2 separate regions of the Homo sapiens genome follow, and region 1 is reported to be linked to region 2. Evidence: microRNA targets listed by miRTarBase, many of them from high-throughput screens and not tested one by one. Region 2 holds a microRNA gene; the other region holds the end of a gene's coding sequence.

What was found. The annotated mature microRNA hsa-miR-548ae-5p reads AAAAGUAAUUGUGGUUUUUG and lies in region 2 at 1,097-1,116, shown strand. An mRNA with a match to its seed (bases 2 to 7 or 8) in the 3' UTR can be bound and repressed. Matches are read on the target gene's strand: a 7mer-m8 pairs with bases 2 to 8, a 7mer-A1 pairs with bases 2 to 7 and ends in A, and an 8mer does both.
Region 1: miRTarBase lists SLC9A4 as a target of hsa-miR-548ae-5p. Seed matches in the 3' UTR shown: 7mer-A1 at 1,555-1,561.

The regions. Positions count from the first base shown.
Region 1 is chr2:102,531,956-102,536,347 of GRCh38, forward strand. SLC9A4 (solute carrier family 9 member A4) reads left to right here. Exons shown (of 12, transcript NM_001011552.4): 12 at 375-2,017. The coding sequence ends at 733. Among named protein-coding and RNA genes, the nearest start is that of SLC9A4, 61 kb to the left of the region's middle.
Region 2 is chr3:32,503,058-32,507,458 of GRCh38, reverse strand. It overlaps MIR548AY (microRNA 548ay), which reads left to right and starts at 1,070; the gene lies at 1,070-1,176.

The DNA.
Region 1 (4,392 bases), not on the chromosome of region 2:
GCACCACATAACCTGTGTGTAGCATTGGCTTTGGACAAGACCAAGCATCTTTGTGTCCCATGGTTTATGTCTATGGCCAACTGATCTGATTCTGTAAAAAGACACTACCTTACTTACCTGGGGAGACTGGCTTGATACAGCATTTTGCATGCATTTCTATTTATTTATGACACTGCACTTATAGCTTCTGTCCTCCCATCTGCTTGGGGCAGTGTCCTTGAGAAGGAAAAATTGTGCTGATAAGAAAGTTGAGTGTAGAGCTGAAACCTCAGGAAGAGCTTTGCTTCACTCTGAGTTCCTGCCATGTGGATATTAAGTCTTAACTCTGATCTTAAGTCTTGTTCTTTCCCCTTCTTGCCATGATGTTTTCCTAGATGATGACAGCAGTGATCCAGGATCCCCATCCATCACGTTCAGCGCATGCTCTCGGATAGGGTCACTTCAGAAGCAAGAGGCACAAGAAATAATACCAATGAAGAGCCTACACAGAGGAAGGAAGGCATTCAGCTTTGGTTATCAAAGAAACACAAGCCAAGAAGAGTACTTGGGTGGAGTAAGGAGGGTGGCCTTAAGACCCAAACCTCTGTTTCATGCAGTGGATGAGGAGGGTGAGTCTGGAGGGGAGAGTGAGGGCAAGGCCTCTTTGGTTGAGGTTCGGTCGAGGTGGACAGCTGACCATGGACACGGCAGGGACCATCACAGGTCCCATAGTCCTTTGCTCCAAAAAAAATAGTGTTATTGTCCACAAGATTGTTTTGGTGTTTCTCAAGAGTCTGTCTTCCTATAACTGTGAAAGGAGGATTTCTGGAATTCAGAAGAGAGCTATTGAGTTTGCTGTGTTGAAGCTATTAAACATGGATCTATAAGCAGCAGGAAGATTTTTTCCAAGGACTGGGAGCAAACTTGCAGGCTCTGCCATGTACTTATTGTGGGGTACCTTTAGATGAATTCCCTGTGAGTGAGAGAAGTTGATCACCCCAGGAATTAGTCACTAAGAATTCCTAAGAACTTTCTATCAAAAGCATTGGATCCAAGCCATATATTGAAATACAAGCGTGATTAATCAGTAATTCACATTGCCGATATGCATATGCAACTTATAATCAAATAGAACTAGAAGAGACTTTGAAGTCACCTGACTCAGCCCCTTGTGTTTACAGACAAGGACATGTAGTCCAAGGTTGCATGGTGAGTTCACAGTCGGATTGTCCTCCCTCCAAACTGAAACTAATTTGATTTTGATTTCATATTCAATATGCAATAATTATGTTCTATCAGAGATAAAATTTGTTATGAATTTGCTTTATTTAATCAGTAGCAATGATAGATGTGATGCATACTATAGGATTAATCTGTGAACAATGGGTTTACGGTCTATTTCATAATTGAAATATTTATTTTAAAAATGAATATTAGAAACAAAACAGCCATAAACAGAGTTTAATAGCAATGATGTTAACAACAAGTATTTATAAGGGGTGCATTTGTAGGGTGTGACATTTTACCCTAGGGTATAAAACTATTTTTCTTTTATTATTATTATTATTATTATTATACTTTAAGTTTTAGGGTACATGTGCACATTGTGCAGGTTAGTTACATATGTATACATGTGCCATGCTGGTGTGCTGCACCCGCTAACTCGTCATCTAGCATTAGGTGTATCTCCCAATGCTATCCCTCCCCCCTCCCCCCACCCCACAACAGTCCCCAGAGTGTGATGTTCCCCTTCCTGTGTCCATGTGATCTCATTGTTCAATTCCCACCTATGAGTGAGAATATGCGGTGTTTGGTTTTTTGTTCTTGGGATAGTTTACTGAGAATGATGATTTCCAATTTCATCCATGTCCCTACAAAGGACATGAACTCATCATTTTTTATGGCTGCATGGTATTCCATGGTGTATATGTGCCACATTTTCTTAATCCAGTCTATCATTGTTGGACATTTGGGTTGGTTCCAAGTCTTTGCTATTGTGAATAATGCCGCAATAAACATACGTGTGCATGTGTCTTTATAGCAGCATGATTTATAGTCCTTTGGGTATATACCTAGTAATGGGATGGCTGGGTCAAATGGTATTTCTAGTTCTAGATCCCTGAGGAACCGCCACACTGACTTCCACAATGGTTGAACTAGTTTACAGTCCCACCAACAGTGTAAAAGTGTTCCTGTTTCTCCACATCCTCTCCAGCACCTGTTGTTTCCTGACTTTTTAATGATTGCCTAAAACCATAAAAACCCTAGAAGAAAACCTAGGCATTACCATTCAGGACTTAGGCATGGGCAAGGACTTCATGTCTAAAATATCAAAAGCAATGGCAATAAAAGACAAAATTGACAAATGGGATCTAATTAAACTAAAGAGCTTCTGCACAGCAAAAGACACTACCATCAGAGTGAACAGGCAGCCTACAAAATGGGAGAAAATTTTCGCAACCTACTCATCTGACAAAGGGCTAATATCCAGAATCTACAATGAACTCAAACAAATTTACAAGAAAAAAACAAACAACCCCATCAACAAGTGGACGAAGGACATGAACAGACACTTCTCAAAAGAAGACATTTATGCAGCCAAAAAACACATGAAAAAATGCTCATCATCACTGGCCATCAGAGAAATGCAAATCAAAACCACAATGAGATACCATCTCACACCAGTTAGAATGGTGATCATTAAAACTATTTTTCGATTTCATTTTCCATCCCCATCTCCCCAAATTTGACCTTGAATCTCAAATTCCAGCTCTTCAATTTTACTAGATCACTTTATCTTTCCTCGCTTTTTGTCTTCTCTTCCAACTTCCCTTTCTTCTTCTGGCCACCAGTAGGTTAACAAACATTTATTGGGCCAAATAACTAACCTACGATATGCAACTAACCAAATACCCTTTTGCCATCACTGGCATCTGTACCATCCTCAGCTGATTTAATCTTATATGTCATTAAAGGCCATGACCAAGGGCATCCTGCTCCCTAGACCAGCCTTTACCTTCTCCCTTGGTGCCCCCACACCCCTTCGGGTATGCTATGTACCTTATCTGTGAATTATGTCTATGCATGCACACATAGGTCTGTTCTGGTGGTCAGTGGGCTGAAGGACAGGGAGGACAGTTTGTTCATTTTAAATTTTATCCATTTATCTGTTGTGTTTTTTATCTCACCCCTTTACCTATTTTGTATTTTTTGGCTTTTTTTCATCTTTTTCTGTTATCGGTTATCATAGTGCCTCACGCATGGTAGATTGTAAATGTTAAACTGACAGTAGCATTTTAGAGCTGTAATGGACATTAGAAAAGGTGCTGTCAGGCATTTTTATTTTGTAGATGATAAAAATGAGATCTTGAGATGGTCTCTGATGCCAACTCAGAGTTTGTTTTTCCTTGAAGGATGCTTGCTTGTCCTCTAGTATAACCCATGGGTGCTAGTTACTGACTAAAGACACGTGTTTTCTCCTGAATGTATCTTTTTTTTAATGACTTGAACTCATTTTCCTGCTGCAGTGGTAGAAATGCCATCAAAGAAGCCCATTTGTCTTTCTCCTTCCGAACCTGAAATATAAAGCTGCTTCTAAATTGTCTAAATATCTTGATTTTAATAAAAATTATGCACTATCAAATAACAGCAATCAGCCTAAAGGGACAGAAGCACACATAAAACTCAGGAATCTTTGGTTTTGTCCTCATTTTTTTTGTTTGTTTGCTTTGTTTTGTTTTTGTTGTTGTTGTTTGTTTGTTTTATGTCACCCAGGCCGGAGTGCAGTGGCATGATCTCTGCTCACTGCAACCCCTGCCTCCCAGGTTCCAGCAATTCTCCTGCCTCAACCTCCCAAGTAGCTGGGACTACAGGTGCATACCACCACACCCGGCTAATTTTGGTATTTTTAGTAGAGACGGGGTTTCACCGTATTGGCCCGGCTCGTCTCCAACTCCTGACCTCAAGTGATCCGCCTACCTTGGCCTCCCAAAGTACTGGGATTAGAGGCGTGAGCCACTGCACCCAGCCAGATTTTGTTCTCTTTGTTTAAAGAAACAAGCAACAAACAACAACAGAAAAAAACTGTGTCCCATGAAAGAAAGGCAGTGGGCCATTATCCTTGAACTATAGATGGAGATATAGCAGCGGAGAGAAGTCATCAGAATTAACCTTTCCAGTGCCATTAAGAAAATGAACTCTTCAGACCTGAAGCGTCCCCACATCCCTTACTGGACTCTATCCATACAACAACAGAAATCCATTGCAAAGGGCCCTTCCCGGAGCAGCCAGCAAGGTCTAAGAATCAGTGGACTCTATCTAAACTATCCTGTTTTACTCTGAGATGCTGGTGCCATTAAGGTGAGGCGTGGTATGACTTAGTAGAGTAGAACTTTACCTTTTAGTTGGTAGAGG
Region 2 (4,401 bases):
GCTCCAGTTCCTTTCTTACTCTCTAAACAAATCAGTCCTCAAATCTCACTGGTTTTACCTCCAAGGTTCTCTTGGTGCCATCCCCATGATTAACGTCAGAGTTTAAGCTTCTATTCCCTCTCTCCTGAACTTTTACAATAGCCCTTACTTGGATCTCTGTAACCACTGCGCTCAAGGCTACTAGAAAAATATCCCCAAGGAAAAGCTCCGATCATTTCACTCCCCTTCCTAAAACTCGTTGGGGGTTCTTCATTACCCAACAATAATGGAAAGGCCCAGTTCCTTAGCTTGATTTTCAAAGCCTTCCAAAATTTGATCTCGAGCTTATATTCCTTAACTACTCTGTCCTTTCCTGCTCCCTTCATTCACTGTGCCTATGCACACTTTCTTTGCCTTCCTTCATACCACCCTACTGCCTGAATACTTTCTGCCCTGTATCTGCATGTCCAAACCGAAGTATAGTTTAACCCCATCTTGAAGCTCCACTGTAGTGATCCTTTAAACTGAAAGTTATTTCTCTCTGCTCCGAATTAGCAACATATTTAATTTGTATCTCTTCTATAACACATATCTCTTTCTATTTTGTAACATAGTTCTTTGTGGACATTACTGTGGTATCATTGTAGGATAGCGTCTATAATCTAACTTTGTATCCACAGTATTGCCTAACTGTGCTAATACCGATAAGAGGGCCAGTGAAAAATTGTTTAGCAGGAACTGCTGAAAAAAATTAAACTCTGAACTGAAAAAGTAGTACTGAGGCAGGATAGGCAGTCAAGGAAGTGCCCATATCCTCAGGACGCAGCAACCATGGTGACCCCAACAGTCAACACAATAAGCCTCAGCATTTGAATTGTGATTGAACTCAGTCGAGCAAAGCTATCTTCAGTAGGAAATTTCTTCTATAGAGAGCATGAGCACTTTGATTTTACCTGTCCTCAAACTGACCTTTTGCTCATTATAATAGCAAAAAACATGCCCTTGGGTGGAGATTTACAATGCTAATGGGACACCTGAGGGAGGAACATGGGTGCACAGCTACTGCACATGTGCAGCCAGAGGACCAACCAGAAGATGCTTACTACTAGGTTGGTGCAAAAGTAATTGTGGTTTTTGCATTTAAAGTAATGGCCAAAACCGCGATTACTCTTGCACGAACCTAACGGTAACACTTCTTCCCACCTCCTTATGAATAATCATGCAAATAATACATGATTAGCAATAACCTCCAGCAATAATCAATGTTGTCTCATCCTTACGAGCAGCCTGCCCTGAATTCTCTCTCTCTCTCAGGGTGTGATGTCTATTTTGTACTTAGCTTTCAAAATTTTTTTTTCTTTTGCAATAAATTATGCTGCATCTCTTTTGCTGTATGTCTCTTGTTTAAATTCTTTTAAACTAAGAAGACAAGAACCAAGGTCTTGCAACAGCCTCCAACACTACCACATTATTTTTTGAATGGCTGAAGTCCCATCAAATTATGTTCCCCAATCGCTCTCTCTTCTTGTGAATGTTTTTCTTTCTTTTTTTAAAAAATTAAATATCTAATTTTAAAGGAGAACAGTGAATATTCTTTAAAACCTAAATTTAGTGTATCTTCCTTTCTTCTTTTTGTCGTATTTTTTTCACCATACGTAAGATTTCTCATTTCAACATAGTGAGTCCCACCATTTGACTATTGCAAGTTGTTTTATTCATTAATGAGGGTGACAGTTTTCTGTGTGAATATGCCCATCAAAAGAGTTTCCTATACAAGTATTTGCTCATGAAGCACTAACATTTTTATTTGGTCTTTCAATTTATGAAGAAAATGTAAGGGATGCCCATTTCTTTACCTGGGTGAAATATTAGTCTCTAAATCCCAGGCACCCCCAAATCAATCAGAGCAAAGAAAATATGGCACGTCTACTGTCTACTACACAATGGCTTTCACTTTTATCACATTATAAAACAGTGTTTCTCTATGTGGATGGATTTCTTCCCAGATTCACATGAAGAGCTTGTTACGAAAGTATATTCCCAAGCCCCATCTACATTCAGAATCTTTGGGGCTAGATCTCCAAGAATCTTCCTTTTTAATTAATCTCACAGATGATTCTTCGCCATGTTGGAGTTTATGAATCACAGGCTAAATTTGTGTCTTCTTCTAAAAATGCAAAGAGAAGCAGAGACCCCTAGAGAATTGCATAAGTGTGCCCTAAACAAACCAAGAGGGTTGACGAAGTCTGTTCATCTTCTCTCTTGTCTCAAAGTATCCTTGTTTCTTTGTAACTTCCTCCCAATACTTTATTTTGAAAATGTTCAAACATACAGAAATGCTGAAATAATTGTACAGTGGACACCCGTATACTTCACCTAAATATTACCATTAATATGTTACTGCAGTTGCTTTATTAGAGATCCTTGTTGTTGTTGTTTTTTTAACAATGATTTTTTTTTTTGAGACGGAGTCTCGGTCTGTCGCCCAGGCTGGAGTGCAATGGTGTGATCTCGGCTCACTGCAAGCTCCGCCTCCCAGGTTCACGCCATTCTCCTGCCTCAGCCTCCCGAGTAGCTGGGACTACAGGCGCCCGCCACCACGCCCGGCTAATTTTTTGTATTTTTAGTAGAGATGGAGTTTCACCGTGTTAGCCAGGATGGTCTTGATTTCCTGACCTCGTGATCCGTCCCCCTCGGCCTCCCAGAGTGTTGGGATTACAGGCGTGAGCTACCGCGACCGGCCTGCTTTTTTTTTTTTTTGAGACGGAGTCTCACTCTGTTGCCCAGACCGGAGTGCCGTAGCGCGATCTCAGCTCACTGCCACCTCCACCTCCCGGGTTTGAGCGATTCTCCTGCCTCAGCCTCCCGAGTAGCTGGGATTACAGGCACACGCCACCACGCCCGGCTAATTTTTGTATTTTTAGTAGAGACGGGGTTTCACCATGTTGGTCAGTCTGGTTTCGAACCCCTGACTTCAGGTGATCCACCTGCCTCGGCCTCCCGAAGTGCTGGAATTACAGGCGTGAGCCACTGCGCCTGGCCTATCACAAATCTTTTATCCATCTCTCTAGTCATCAACTCATCTTAATTTTGGATGAATTTCAAAGGAACTTTTAGACATCAGTAGTGTCTAATTTGGGATGATAGTGACTTGAAGAATAATGGGGCAATGAATCCTTGTAGCCCTGGTGAAAATACAGTGGCCTTCCTTGTTGGACAGAATTGGTGGCATCTTGGCCTTGGGAGGACATTCAGAGTGCATGTAATCAGAGACAGAAGGGTAGTTCTGGCTGGTTGTAGGTGGCCCCTGCAGGGCAGTATCTACTTGTCTCTATTCATTTGAATGGGAGCTTTTGTTTGTTACTGGAAGAAGAAAGGGAGGTTTGGGGCCACGGAGAAGATGTAGCAGCTGATGGCAGCAGAAACCCCTTCTCTCTTCCATGGGTTTTGAGACTCCAATGGAGAGATGAGTTAGAAGCTGACGTTTTCTGGGTTAGCGTTTAGCAGCAAGGTTTCGAGTCAGACTGCTTAGGCCTGCATTCCAGCTGCTCCTGGCTGTTTGACCTTGGATATGATTTCAGCCTCTTGGCCTCAGTTTTCTCATTTGAAAATGAATGTAACCGACTTTATACTGTCGAACCTACTTTATATTGTTGTGAACATCCTGTAACTCAATCAACTTCAGTTGCTAAAATATAATTACATTCCTTGACAAGTTCACACAAAATTAACATATGTGACTGTAGCAGTTGGTGACCAAGAAAGAGAAAAAGGAAATGATTTTGAAAAGTGAGCCTAAATGGAATTTCGGGAGACGCGGGAGGGAGCGATTCTGAAAGTCCTTACAGACAACTCATTGTACTTCAAATGAAATACGAATTCTTCCCTTGGTCTGCAAGGCCTCCACATTATCTGGCCTTTGCCTACATCTCCAACATCTCCTTTCCTCCCGTACTTATTCCTAGCGACACAGGCCTTTGGGCTTCAGATTGAGTCAAACTCATTTGGTCCTCGGGACATTTGCACTTTCGTGAAAGGCTCTCCCCAGAACTTTACAAGCCTGGCTTCTCACACTTTGAGTCTCATTCAATTCAAAGATCATGGTCCTCAGAGAGGCCTTTCCTGACCACTCAGTTTAGTAGTGGCCATTTAAGTAGAGCACCCAATTCTCCATCCTTTTTTCCTTCTCCTTCCTCTTCTCCTCCTCCTCCATCTTCTTTTTTTTTTTAATAAATTTATCAAGCCACCAGAAATGCTGAATCCATTATTTTCGTATCATATTTTCACGTCACTTATCACTATCTGAAATTGCTATCCATCTGTTTTCTTGTTTATTGTCTGTCTCTGTTACTAGGGATCCTGTGATTTTGGGTAGTACTTGGCTGTCACCCAAGTACCTAGAACGGGGTTCACTGCACACCG